4 separate regions of the Homo sapiens genome follow, and regions 1, 3 and 4 are each reported to be linked to region 2. Evidence: microRNA targets listed by miRTarBase, many of them from high-throughput screens and not tested one by one. Region 2 holds a microRNA gene; each other region holds the end of a gene's coding sequence.

Region 1 (3,118 bases), not on the chromosome of region 2:
TTCCTTAGAATAAATTCCTAGAAGTACACTTGTTGGGCCAAGGGACATACACAGTTAAAATTTGAATTCATACAGAATGCCAAATTGTCCCCCGCCCCAAGAAAAGCTATAGCAGATTGCACTATAAATGAGAGTATATGTGAATTTTTCTACACCTTGGCCAATACTGGGGATTACCCTTCTCTTAAGTCTTTGCCAATCTGCCATGTGAAAATAAAACCTTACTTTAGTGTTCACGTTTTGATTACTAATAAGGTTAACATCTTTGTATATTTGGAGTTGGGTCTTGTTCCTTTGCTAATGTCAGGCATCAGCAAGTTACTTGATACTTGATCTTAAGGAGAGGGGACTAGAATGAGTAACCTTCAGTGCCAGTAATTCATTTTCAATCCCATCCTCTCTTTTTTTCTTGCAGGAGTTAAGGGAGCATGGAGAAAAGAAGAAACGCTCGCGAGAGGATGCTGGAGATAATGATGACACAGAGGGTGCTATTGGTGTCAGGAACAAGGTGGCTGGAGGAAAAATGAAGAAGCGGAAAGGCCGTTAATCACTTTTATGAAGGCTCGAGTTCTGCTGTTCTGTAAAAGAGAATTGGAGAATGAAACCTGCTCCAACAGAGATCATGAGACTGAAATTGGTCAGAATTGTGTCCAGAATGTGCTCAGCTAATTCAGTATTCTTCCCCATTCTGGGTTGGAGTTTACTGCAGAGTAATTCTTACAGTGCTGATGTCAAGACTGTTACTGTTCTTCGACTTTGATTCCTTGCTCATGACATGAGTAGGGTGTGCTCTTCTGTCACTTCACACAGACCTTTTGCCTTTTTTAGCTGCAAGTCAAGGACTAGGTTGATGATGCCCATGACCTGTAATTGTAAAGAAGCTTGGACATCTGCAAATGATATTTAAACCATCTTGGCTTGTGCTTTATTCAAACTAATGTGAAACAATAAATTTAAATATTATTTTTAAAAGATTCTAACTCCTTAAAGACCTTGGTGTTAAAGGGCCTTATAGATTTAAGTAAGATCTTGTTAATAGGTAAGAACCTGACAGTGTTGATTACATGGCAAATTCATTGGTTGTCCTAATTAAGATAAATATTTATTACTTAAAAAAATCAACAAGGAAACGAGATGATGGATGGCTTTGAAAGGGAAGCCCCAGCCGGGTGTGGTGGCTCACGCCTGTAATCCCAGCACTTTGGGAGGCCAAGATGGGCAGATCAGGAGGTCAGGAGATTGAGACCATCCTTGGTAACACCGTGAAACCCTGTCTCTACTAAAAATACACACACAAAAAAAACATTAGCCTGGCGTGGTGGCGGGCGCCTGTAGTCCCAGCTACTCGGGAGGCTGAGGCAGGGGAATGGTGTGAACCCGGGAGGCAGAGCTTGCAGTGAACCTAGATCGCGCCATTGCACACTCCAGCCTGGGCAACAGCGAGACTCTGTCTCAAAAAAAAAGAGAAGTTCTACTTAAAAAAGGAGGTTGTGTTTTTCTTGCAGATGGAGCAAAGTCTATCAGTAAGACAGCAGAGGTCTTTAAAATCCCTAAATAGATTTACTTCCTTCATTCCCTCAATTAAGCAGGTGGTTAGGAAGACTGGTTTCTCACATAGACTCTTTTTTTTTTTTTTTTGAGATAATCTTGCTCTGTCATCCAGGGTGGAGTGCGGTGGTATGACCTCAGCTCAGTGCAGCCTTGACCTTCCAGGCTCAAGTGATCTCCCACCTCAGCCTCCTGAGTAGCTGGGACTACAGGCACATGCCATCACGCCTGGCTAATTTTTATATTTTTTGTAGAGATGGGATCTTGGCTTGTTACCCAGACTGGCCTTGAACTCCTGAGCTCAAGAGATCCATCTGCCTCGGCCTCCCAAAGTGTTGGGATTACAGGTGTGAGCCACTGCACCCGGCCTCTTTTTTTTTTTTTTTTTTTTTTTTTTTGAGATGGAGTCTTGCTCTGTTGCCAGGCTGGAGTGCAGTGGCACAGTCTTGGCTCACTGCAACCTCTGACTCCCTGGTTCAAGCGATTCTCCTGCCTCAGCCTCCCGAGTAGCTGGGATTACAGGCACTCACCATCATGCCCAGCTAATTTTTGTATTTTTGTAGAGATGGGGTTTTGACATGTTACCCAGACTGGCCTTGAACTCCTGAGCTCAAGAGATCCATCCACCTCAGCCTCCCAAAGTGTTGGGATTACAGGTGTAAGCCACTGTACCTGGCCTCTTTTTTTTGAGACAGAGTCTTGCTCTGTTGCCAGGCTGGAGTGCAGTGGTGCGACCTCAGCTCGCTGCAACCTCCAACTCCCTGGTTCAAACGATTCTCCTGCCTCAACCTCCCAAGTAGCTGGGATTACAGGCACGCACCACCATGCCCAGCTAATTTTTGTATTTTTAGTAGAGACAGGGTTTCATCATGTTGGCCAGGATGGTCTTGAACTCCCAAGCTCAGGTGATCCACCTGTCTCGGCCTCCCAAAGTGCTGGGATTACAGGTGTACGCTGCTGCACCCGGCCACTCTGCCTCTTATGTAGATTCTTTTCCCCAGGTGACAAGAATAAAATCAATATGCCTCAGAAATGTATAATTCTGAGACCTAATTTCATCCACTTGTCATTAGTGCCCACTGGCCACTCATCTTTTTTGTCCTCATCTATTAGGCGATGCAGGAGATGTAGAGCTGGGGCCTCAGCTCCAGGGGAGGAGGTAGGCATTGGCACTCTAGGGGCTGGTTGTTGGGGGAGGGTTACTGAAATTCAGAAACAACTTGGAAATTCCCAATCACAAACAGTCTCATGTTCTGAGGATGTTTACACATAGAAGATGCCTAATACTTTTTGTTGTCTATAACAGTTTTATTAGAAGAGTGTGTCTGGAGTGGCAGAACCAAGGTAAAGAGCGTCTAAATAATCACTTTGATGGATTAAGATTGGAATGAAGTTTGGCTGAAAAGAAACTTTCCTTATCCATCTAAGTCAGAGTATCTGGTGAGGAGTAAAGAGTAGGAGGCAGGCCGGGCGTGGTGGCTGACGCCTGTAATCCCAGCTCTTTGGGAGGCTGAGGAGGGCAGATCACGAGGTTAGATCGAGACCATCCTGGCTAAAACGGTGAAACCCT
Region 2 (3,118 bases):
GTTGTACTCAACTGTTATCCAACATATCTTGGAGCATGCACCAGGATGCTCCCTGACACAGCTCACTTTGCAAGTAATTCTTAGACACACACTTTCTCCACCAGGCCTGTCTAGTTGAAGTTCTCTATATCCCTGCCCCCCTCCCCACCCTGGTTAAGCATAGGACTTCCATGGTTACATCCCATTTATTCCTTTCCCAAACATGCTTAATGCATTTCATCTCCAGTTACAAACATCGTCTGCTAATGAACAATGTAGATAGTTACCATGTTGTATAAATAGTTACTTATTTCCCTTCGTTGTTGGTTTTATCCAATAAACTAGCCCGATCAGCTTCATTTTATATCACCTTATCTCATACAGATGAGAAACTGTATGTATTTCAGCCTGTCTAAACTGGAGGTAACGCTAGACTGCAGTATCCCTGCACAGTGTCGTATTAGAAATGGCACCCTATAAATTTTTTATGAGTTAATAATGATTGTGATCCCATTCCTATTTTCTACAAGTTCTTCTGTTATGGTGGCAATTAAATAGCCTCACCTTCCTTTCACTTTCTGCAAACCTGCTGCAAGTCATCATTAACTTTCTTAATTGGTAGCGGCTCTGAATTCCAGTCTTTCAGAGTTCCCGTAAACAGCATCTTTCTTAATACTTATGTCATAATGTTTTTCTCCTTTCCTTGCATTTCATTCTGCCTTTGGGCAGGAACAGCATCATTTCCTGCTCTTCTGGGGTTTCAACACTGACTGCAAAGCACCCTTGCTCATCTCACTGGGAGATTCTGCAGCCAAGCAGAGATTTGCATAAAGCCCATCCACCCTTCACCAGCACAGGATACGCAGACTTAACTGCAGGGACTCTTGGTGACTAGTCTCTGTGGTGCACACTCTCCACCCTACCACCAAAAAGGTCCCCAGTACCCTAAAAGGAACTATGTACTCAAATATCACCTCAAATAAGATGAGGTCTTTCTGAGAGAAAAGAGATGTTGATGCACGTGACGGGGAGGGCATAGGAGAGGGTTGATATAAAATGCAATTACAGCCTCTTATGCTTTCCAAAGTGGGGGATGATTCAATGATTCCTGACTGGTCCACAGCCATATATCAATTGAGGTTATAATACTAATTTGAATTGCAAATCTCTGAAAAGAAGGGGACAAGCTAAGGAGATAAAATTTAACAGGGTGAGTCCTGAATTTAGATTTAAACAAACTCCACAAGTATAAGAAGGCAGAGGCTGGCAACAGTACTTGCTGTCATGTTTAGTCGGCCACTGGTCAGTCTGAGACAGCAGTGGGTGTGATCGTGTAGCAGCTATGGAAAGCTTATGCTGCATTTAATAATAATAGTCATACTTTAAAGCATGTTTCAGTTATGAATTCATTCTGACCAGAAAAGTAACTTGCACTAGCTTAACAGTCAAATAGCAAGAAGCATAGAGAAGTGGCCGCTTGCTGTGCTTCAGCAGCTCAACAGTGTCTCTATTCTCTTAGCCTCTTCCTCCTGCTTGCCACCTCTCAGTCACAAGACGGCTGCTGCGACTCAGGCTCATGTCCCAATTCAAGGCAGCAAGAAGGCCATGGAGCGGCACCTGCCAGGTATGTCCCTTTCCCAGGCATCCCCAGCAGATTTCTCACTGTCTGAAACTGCATCCCACGGCGTTCTTAGGTGCGAGGCTGGTCTGGAGAGTCAATGCTTGGGTTTTCCAATACCTGCATGGGACATGGGCAAGATGGAAGGGAGTTGGGTTTAGGAAACCAGTAGTGCCAGCCCTTTACTCGTATCATATCTGATCCCCACAGCAACCCTGAGGAGTAGCTATTTATCATCCTTATTGAGCAAATGAAGAAAATCAGAACCAGCAACATCAAGAAAAAATGAGGAAAGACATACATTAGTAAATAATAAAGCCAGGGTTCCAATTCAGATCAGGTTGAATCCAAAATTCCTCTCCCTGCCATTATAACGCATCACAGTGTTCAGGTCATGTGGGTCTGGGAAGGATGAATCATATTCAACTATCCCACCACGTTTTTGGCCATTTTTTAAAAACTAAAGTATAACACACATCTTGTTATGTTAACACTGACATCTTGAGAATATTAAATCTTCCAATCCATGAACATAGACTGTTTTTACATTTATTTGGTTTCTTCTTTGATTTATTTCAACAAAGCTTTGTAGTTTTCACAGTATAAGTTTTGTACATCTTTGTTAAATTTACTTCTAAGTATTTTAGAATTTTTATCTTAAGTGAAATTACTTTCTTAATTTCATTTTTGGTTTGCTCATTGCTACTGTATACAATACAATTAATATTTGTACATTGCTCTTAATCCTGTAACCTTGCCGGACCTTATTCATTTTAAGTTTGTTCTTTGAATATGTGAAACATTAAAAAGATTTTAAAAGCCAGAACTATACACAAAGGTATTGTCCTTGTAATTTTATATCTGATTGGAAGAATTCTCCACAGACTAGCTTCTGGCGATGTACTTTTCAAACCTTGTTTTTCTCCACTACCCATATATTTTCATGCGAATTCTGGGTACTAGGAGATACAGTCATACCACAGTATGACCTCTGGTCCTGGACTTTAGTGTCACAATGCTGTTTGAGTTAGTCAGTAAGCCATAGGAGTATTCCTGGAAGTCATTTCTACACTGGGGTGCCCAGTAATAACTTAACCATGTGTTGAAGTTACTGAAAACCACATCATTATAACCTACTCCACCAAAACTAAATATAGCTATAACTCAATTTCCCCTTAGCTGGGTCTCCAAAATGCCCAGTAACACCTGACGCAAGGGGATGTGATGGAAGGGAGGCTGAAGTGAAGGTACAGCAGACTTAACTAGTTGTAGTAAAGATACTTTACCTCTGAACATTTACGAAACATATGACCATGTGAACACAATTCTGGGTCCCCTCTGGGGCCTCGGAAGAAGGTGTCAGTGCTAGTGAGGGGCTCTAAAAGTGAAAACTTCATTAAATTCATTGCAAATCCACCTTTCTACTCCAATTCTCAGTTGTGTTCCTTTATTTGCAAAATACAAATAATATTTGCTTTGCCTATTTGAAAGGTTATTGTGATATATAATGAAATTTGTGTT
Region 3 (3,118 bases), not on the chromosome of region 2:
AAAGGGTGGAATTCTGATCTTATGTTGGGAGGGTGTCCAAGTTACTGATGTAGTTGTTACGACCAATCTTTCATACTTCTTGGTTAAGAATCTGTCCGGTTCTAAAGAGTGCATTTCATATCCTTGCTAAGCCTACTAATAAGCTTCATCCCTTTTTTTTTTTTTTTTTTTTAATTATCTGCTGCTTGTGATCGGTTGCTAGTGGAGGAAGAAGCGAATGCGCAGGTACGTTGAGACTTTGCCAGCCCAGGAGGAGGGAAGTTCCTTGGACAAAACTTAGGAGAAACATTTGGTTTGGAAATCTTAAAAGATCTTTAGGAGAAAAACGTTTGAGTGTTTTCTCCCTGGAGCCAGGATTTAACAGAACAGAGAACGATAGAACCGTAGTGCTTGTTCATTTTACCACCTCATTCTTTATGTGGACGTTTGATTTAATGTGGGAGGGAAAGGCAACTCTGGTTTGAGGTGTATTCCATTCCTGTGTCTGCTTTTCAGGCTGAAGCGCAAAAGAAGAAAGATGAGGCAGAGGTCCAAGTAAACCGCTAGCTTGTTGCACCGTGGAGGCCACAGGAGCAGAAACATGGAATGCCAGACGCTGGGGATGCTGGTACAAGTTGTGGGACTGCATGCTACTGTCTAGAGCTTGTCTCAATGGATCTAGAACTTCATCGCCCTCTGATCGCCGATCACCTCTGAGACCCACCTTGCTCATAAACAAAATGCCCATGTTGGTCCTCTGCCCTGGACCTGTGACATTCTGGACTATTTCTGTGTTTATTTGTGGCCGAGTGTAACAACCATATAATAAATCACCTCTTCCGCTGTTTTAGCTGAAGAATTAAATCATCTTGTCTATTATGTTTTTTATGGTTCCATCGGGTGGGGGTTTTCTGTCATTAGAGTTTGCCCTGTCACTACCTGTGCTATGGAGGGTATCAAAGCTATAAAGGCAACAGCCCGGGTTACGTGGTGTGGTTTGCATCTCGCTGGAGTTGGATGGGATATGGTACGTCTCTGGAGGCAGGTTTTAGGTTTCGCGGGTTATTAGGGGCCAATGCTGGTACCGCCCCTTTCCAGGAGGGCTGCCTTGGCGACTACCGCTTAGACCATGTCGTGCCTTTGGGTTGGGTTGCCATAGTGACACGCAAAGCGTGCTGGGAACGCCCTGCGGCATGTCGCACGCGTACTTCATACACCATAGAGTATGGTTCCGGGTCTGCTGGCTAGAGCGTCACTTCTTCCGCAGGAAGCGGAAGAGCGATCGGGTAGGCGGCTCTTTGTCGAAGCTAGAGGACCGGCAGGCGGCAGCAGCAACTACGGCGGCGGCGGCAGGTGAGGGAGGCGGGAGACTTAGGTGGAGGCCGCGCCCGGAGGGGAGGAGTCGGGGCCGGCCCAGCGGCTGGGCTCGGCCAGGCCACAGAAGGCCCCCCAGAACCGAGCTGGCTCGTCCTCACACCCCAGGGCAGTGCCCCTTTTCTGAGTGACCCCGCATCGCGAGCAAACGCCAGCTTCGTGACGTCACAACCCTGCCCATCCCCTCAGCTTGATGACACCTGGAGCTCCAGCTCCCCGCTTCACTTCGCGCGCCCTTAGTGTCCCATTCACGTAGCCCACGGCTGAGCGCCGGCGGCACTGCACGGAACCTGCCAAGCTAGAAGACTTGCTGCGGGAAAACTCCTAGGACTTCTTTCGCAAACTCTAGGGTGTTGGGAAGCGTCACAATCACTGCCTTCAAGTCTAATCGGCCATCCCAATGCACTGTCAGACGCTGCCTTTTTGAGGTTCCTCACTAGCCATTACTAACTCCAGCCCTTGGCGGTGCTCTGACCCTCACATCCTCTTTCATCTTGAGGCAGGGCGCCCCGCACTCTTTGTTCACTCAGGGCTGGTTTTCCAACCCCTCCTCCCAGTCCCTCCGAATTAGTTTTACTCTTCTTACTGGCAACTTCTCCCTTGGACAGGTGAAGTTCAGTTTGAACCCTGAGGAAATCCTCACGTTCTCGAAGCTTTGCCGTTTTGTCAGATTTCTTGTGACAACCACCCCATAGTCCTCCACTCTTACTCCTTCTTCCACCCAAGTCTCTGTTTTTTTCCTGCTCAGAACCCAGCAGTGATGTGGAGGTGGAGACCCACAGGAGCCCCGGACTTCACCTGAGCTACCTCAGGTATCAATTCTGGGAGAGTGGGGTGGGGAGGAGCATCATAACTAATTATCTGCTGCTGGTGCGACTTGCAACGTGAGCCAGGCTTGGATAGATGGCATTTGTACTTCACCTGGTCATTCCCCTTTACTAAAAGTTTGTATCTTCTTTTACCACTTCTTTCCTTGATTGCTTCTATTATTCTGGGACTACCTCTCTTTAGAGGAGGAGGACCCTCTTACAGATTCTCTTGTAACTCTGGCCTCTGGTTTGGTTAGTTCATTTTAGGGAGATCTGAAGGCAAAGTCACAGTAGTGGGGTGGGGGTAGGTCAAGGCCAAAGGAATTAGGAAAGATTCCCTTATTCTCAAAGGGAACAATATGAAGTTTTCCTATTTCAGCAGCAGGGGGAGCCTGAACACCGCATAGGAAAGGCTTGGGAGGTCAGACACGTGGTAGCAGGGACTCCAGGTCTTACTGGGGGTGGAGAGAGGGGAGGGCTAGAACCAGGGCAGTGGACTGACATTCCAAAGCTCTCTTGGGAAATAGGAGACTTAAAAAGCTTTTATGGAGTCTATAAATAAAGAGGATCTTTCTGGGTTGAGGAATGGTGTGGTTGGATGTCAGTGGGATCTTCACATAGGGGAGTAGGAAGGGGGTGGGGAATGGGGAAAGGTCACTTGTTCCTGTGAAATTAACTCCTTCCCACTTGACCTTATCACAAATGGTTTGTCCTAGGAAATCTAGAAGTGGAGACTCTAACTTAGAACTCCTATCCTGAAATAGAAGGGGCTTACCTCTCTGCCGTTGACAGTGATGATGGCTGGGAGGGAATACTAAAATATGACAGGTTTTGAGACTCCCCTCAAGCTGGTGACACCAGTCTCTTCACCCAGGATTTCTTGGCTTCTAGAGATTTGATGTGTACAGAGCCCTTACCTGAGGAAAAGGAAAGGGGGTTAAGGAAGTTTTGTTACC
Region 4 (3,118 bases), not on the chromosome of region 2:
TGGGAACTCTTGGAGGACCCTGTACATTGCACTCACATATGGCACTGTCATTTCATTTTACTGGCTTTCCCTTCCACTAAATTGTGAGGATCAAGTGCCAAATTCTATGGTTTCTATTATATCCTCTAGTCCCCAGGTCATGGGCTTGACACATAGTAGATACACAATAAATGAACAGTAAATATAGGCATCTATAATTCCTTCAGTAGGAAAATATCTACTCTCTTTAAACCTTTCATGAAATAGGACAACTATCTTCCCCTTTTTACTACATGTACAGCCAGAATGACTGAAGAATATACCACCTGGGTCGTATAACTGATAACATTTCAGGAAGCTGCTAGCTGATTACATCACTTATGACATCAGAAAGAAAGCCACCATTTTGTAGAGCGCGTATGTGACCGCCAACATGGACCGAATTCATGCTACATACACTTGACTTTAGTCTTGACACCCTTGGTAACTCATTTTAGTTTTATTTTGATAAAGAACTTGAGGCTGTGAAACTTGCCCACAGTCATACAGCTAGCAAGTGATGAAGCCAAACTAATACAATGTGCTAGATTTTCTTCTAGATGAACTAAAAAATGAGGTTGGCTGAAACTAACATTTCCCCAGTGCTGAAAAAAACGATGAAGGCAGCAAATAACTTGTTCATCTCAGACTGTGGGTATGCAGTTTTAACAATATCAACTGAAAACCAGCCTTCTTCCCATTCAGAGCTTAAATAATTGCAACACTGTTACCATCCATCAAATAAGAGACTCATCAGATACTCAGTTTGAAGCACTGTTTTAAAACAACTTCTCAAATTTATTTAACTCATGTGGTTAACATGGTATTGTATAAAAAGAAAAAAAAAACACCACTCAATACTTACTAAGCCTTGCAGACAGCTCAGAGTTGAGGCAGCATATTGGGCATAGAGATCATAGGATTTGTATTATCCCTTGCAAGATGGAACTCCAACCAACACCAGAATTTTCCAATTCAAATTCAGTTTTAGTCGAGACCCCAGCATAATTTTTAGAAAAAAGATTGGATTGTTGCTTTTCTTTTAATTTTCCATTCCTATTTAGACAAATGACCAGAGGCAATGACAAAAGTAACTGTTTAAAAGGGATTTCTCTCCAGAAGTTTTTTCTAAAGGTTTAAGTCCAGGCTTTCCATCCTTCTCTCCATCCTTTTTCCTTTTAAAAAGAAGGGTTTTGGAATATGTCAACCTTTACTCAGCTTGCTATACAAAGCCACTGCTTTAGTCCTAGACATAATGCCAGGACTCATCTCCCAAACTTCTGGTCTTAATCAAGTTCATGCTTGGTTGCTAAAGAAGCTCATGTTAATCCCAAAGTCAGCACAATCCCAACCTTAAAAAGCAGACAGCTGATTGCATCACTTACGACATACACCATCTTGAGGCAAAAGAAGCCAGTCAGACACCCCTTGTCTGCTACGTGTGAGACACATCAGCAGTTGAGCCTGACCCCTTCCGCAGAGCTCACTGTGCAAAATCACCAGCACACCACTGCAATCCACTGAGCTCACCGCCTGTCCAGCCATAATGGAAGTCACTTGAAGGTTATCATTGTAATAGATGATTTTCCATAAGTAACTAATAAAAATGTTTTCTTTGATGTTTAGACCTACTAACAATTCAGTCTCTCCCTCTCCATCCTCTCTTAGGGAGCCTGTACTTTTAAGCAAATAGGGAAGCTAAAAATACAAAGGAGCAACATCCATTTATAAATAAATGTGTGCCTTATCTTCCTCACTAACTTCCTGGAAAAGTGCTGTTTTTGAATATTCTGTTTTCTTAAGGAGAAATTTTTTGTAAATGTAGCACACTGTATATAGGAAGGGATTTCTCTTTTTAGTCTTTATCTCATTGTACGGGTTTCACTCTCTAGGTATTGAGAGTGGGGGAGGAGGGGATCAACAAACCGCAAAGAGCAGCATAAAGCACACCCCGTATCAGCAGCACGGCAGCTCCTCCAATATCGTCAATGCTGACTCGAGGTAATTTCTGGTGGAGTTGAACACATCATTAAATTTCTATTTGTGTTCTGCCTGAGGCTTTTCCCTAACCACTAATTGCAAGTGAAGGTCCCAGAGAGCTTTTGTGAAAGGAACAGAACACAAGCCACGTCCTGGTCTGTAGCCAGGTGTCCGTGTACTGCATAATGGAGGAAGAGGATTACAGGGAGATTTTCACTTCAGCCTTTAGTCCAACCAAAACTTAAAAGACTTACAGAGAACAGCCTCAGGAGGTTAGGGGACAGAAGTGTGGTACTGCAGGAAGACAAGAGGGGTAAACGTATCCAGCAGAATGTAAGGATAAGAAACACCCACATGAATTCTTAGAATACAGAGGAACAAGAAGGAATAATTCCTGTGCCATATGCGGACCAGGGCATAGGGTGAGTGGAGCACAGTGGGTTAGCCACTAAATGGCTTCAGTGAGAATTCTGAAAACTGTTCCAGTATAATTTTGGAGTAAATCCTTCTCCTGGACAGGTCAAAGACTGTGCTTTTTAAATGTCATTAGAAGGTAACAGCTTTTTGCCTCCTGCTTCCAGATGATTTCCTTTTGGTTAAAAACCAGAAATAGTATAAACCTCACAGGATGAAAGAACAGTCTTTTGATACAGGTGAGGTGGAGATCTAGATGAACTTACATAGTAAGTGAGGAGTACATTTCTTGGTCTTCTCCCTTGACCACTCCAAGTCTCTGATCTACCAGAGATGGCAGTTTATTTCCTCTGGAAGAAGCCAGTAATGGACACCTGTCTGTTGGCTTTGCCCAGAGCAGCAGTCCCTTTCTTGGGGCCCTTTCGTTCCTCTCTGGGTTCTTTTTTCACAGTCATGGCAGGGGGTCTGTGTACTGAGGATGTCTTCATGTTAAGCTCCTCTTCACTATCTGTGCAGGATTCACTCTCGTAGACTTTTTCAGTCACTGGTAGGATGAGAAAAAAATGGAACATGGGTGGGCTGAATCATTTACTCTATGAAGAAAATGGGATGTCTTGCTAACCCCAATCATTTCAGACTCTGATCAAGGCAAATATGCTTACTTAGGACTCAATCTTTCTCCCACTGGGAGATCAGATCTAGCCTA

What was found. Region 2 holds the annotated microRNA hsa-miR-3945 (AGGGCAUAGGAGAGGGUUGAUAU, at 1,010-1,032, shown strand). A microRNA usually pairs through its seed, bases 2 to 8, with sites in the 3' UTR of a target mRNA and lowers its output. Matches are read on the target gene's strand: a 7mer-m8 pairs with bases 2 to 8, a 7mer-A1 pairs with bases 2 to 7 and ends in A, and an 8mer does both.
Region 1: miRTarBase lists DDX47 as a target of hsa-miR-3945. Seed matches in the 3' UTR shown: 7mer-A1 at 854-860.
Region 3: the mRNA of RPL41 is a reported target of hsa-miR-3945. Seed matches in the 3' UTR shown: 7mer-A1 at 720-726.
Region 4: the mRNA of POLD3 is a reported target of hsa-miR-3945. Seed matches in the 3' UTR shown: 7mer-m8 at 2,412-2,418 and 8mer at 921-928.

Annotation. Positions count from the first base shown.
Region 1 is chr12:12,829,008-12,832,125 of GRCh38, forward strand. It overlaps DDX47 (DEAD-box helicase 47), which reads left to right. Exons shown (of 12, transcript NM_016355.4): 12 at 416-974. The coding sequence ends at 547. Among named protein-coding and RNA genes, the nearest start is that of DDX47, 17 kb to the left of the region's middle.
Region 2 is chr4:184,848,980-184,852,097 of GRCh38, reverse strand. It overlaps MIR3945 (microRNA 3945), which reads left to right and starts at 988; the gene lies at 988-1,085. It overlaps MIR3945HG (MIR3945 host gene), which reads left to right. Exons shown (of 3, transcript NR_132989.1): 2 at 1,499-1,603. RefSeq lists an enhancer at 1,469-1,538 and a silencer at 2,607-2,676.
Region 3 is chr12:56,116,987-56,120,104 of GRCh38, forward strand. It overlaps RPL41 (ribosomal protein L41), which reads left to right. Exons shown (of 3, transcript NM_001035267.2): 2 at 203-225; 3 at 496-981. The coding sequence ends at 538. It overlaps ZC3H10 (zinc finger CCCH-type containing 10), which reads left to right and starts at 1,280. Exons shown (of 3, transcript NM_032786.3): 1 at 1,280-1,332; 2 at 2,102-2,165. RefSeq lists a silencer at 955-1,004.
Region 4 is chr11:74,640,402-74,643,519 of GRCh38, reverse strand. It overlaps POLD3 (DNA polymerase delta 3, accessory subunit), which reads right to left. Exons shown (of 12, transcript NM_006591.3): 12 at 444-2,956. The coding sequence ends at 2,754. Among named protein-coding and RNA genes, the nearest start is that of POLD3, 49 kb to the right of the region's middle.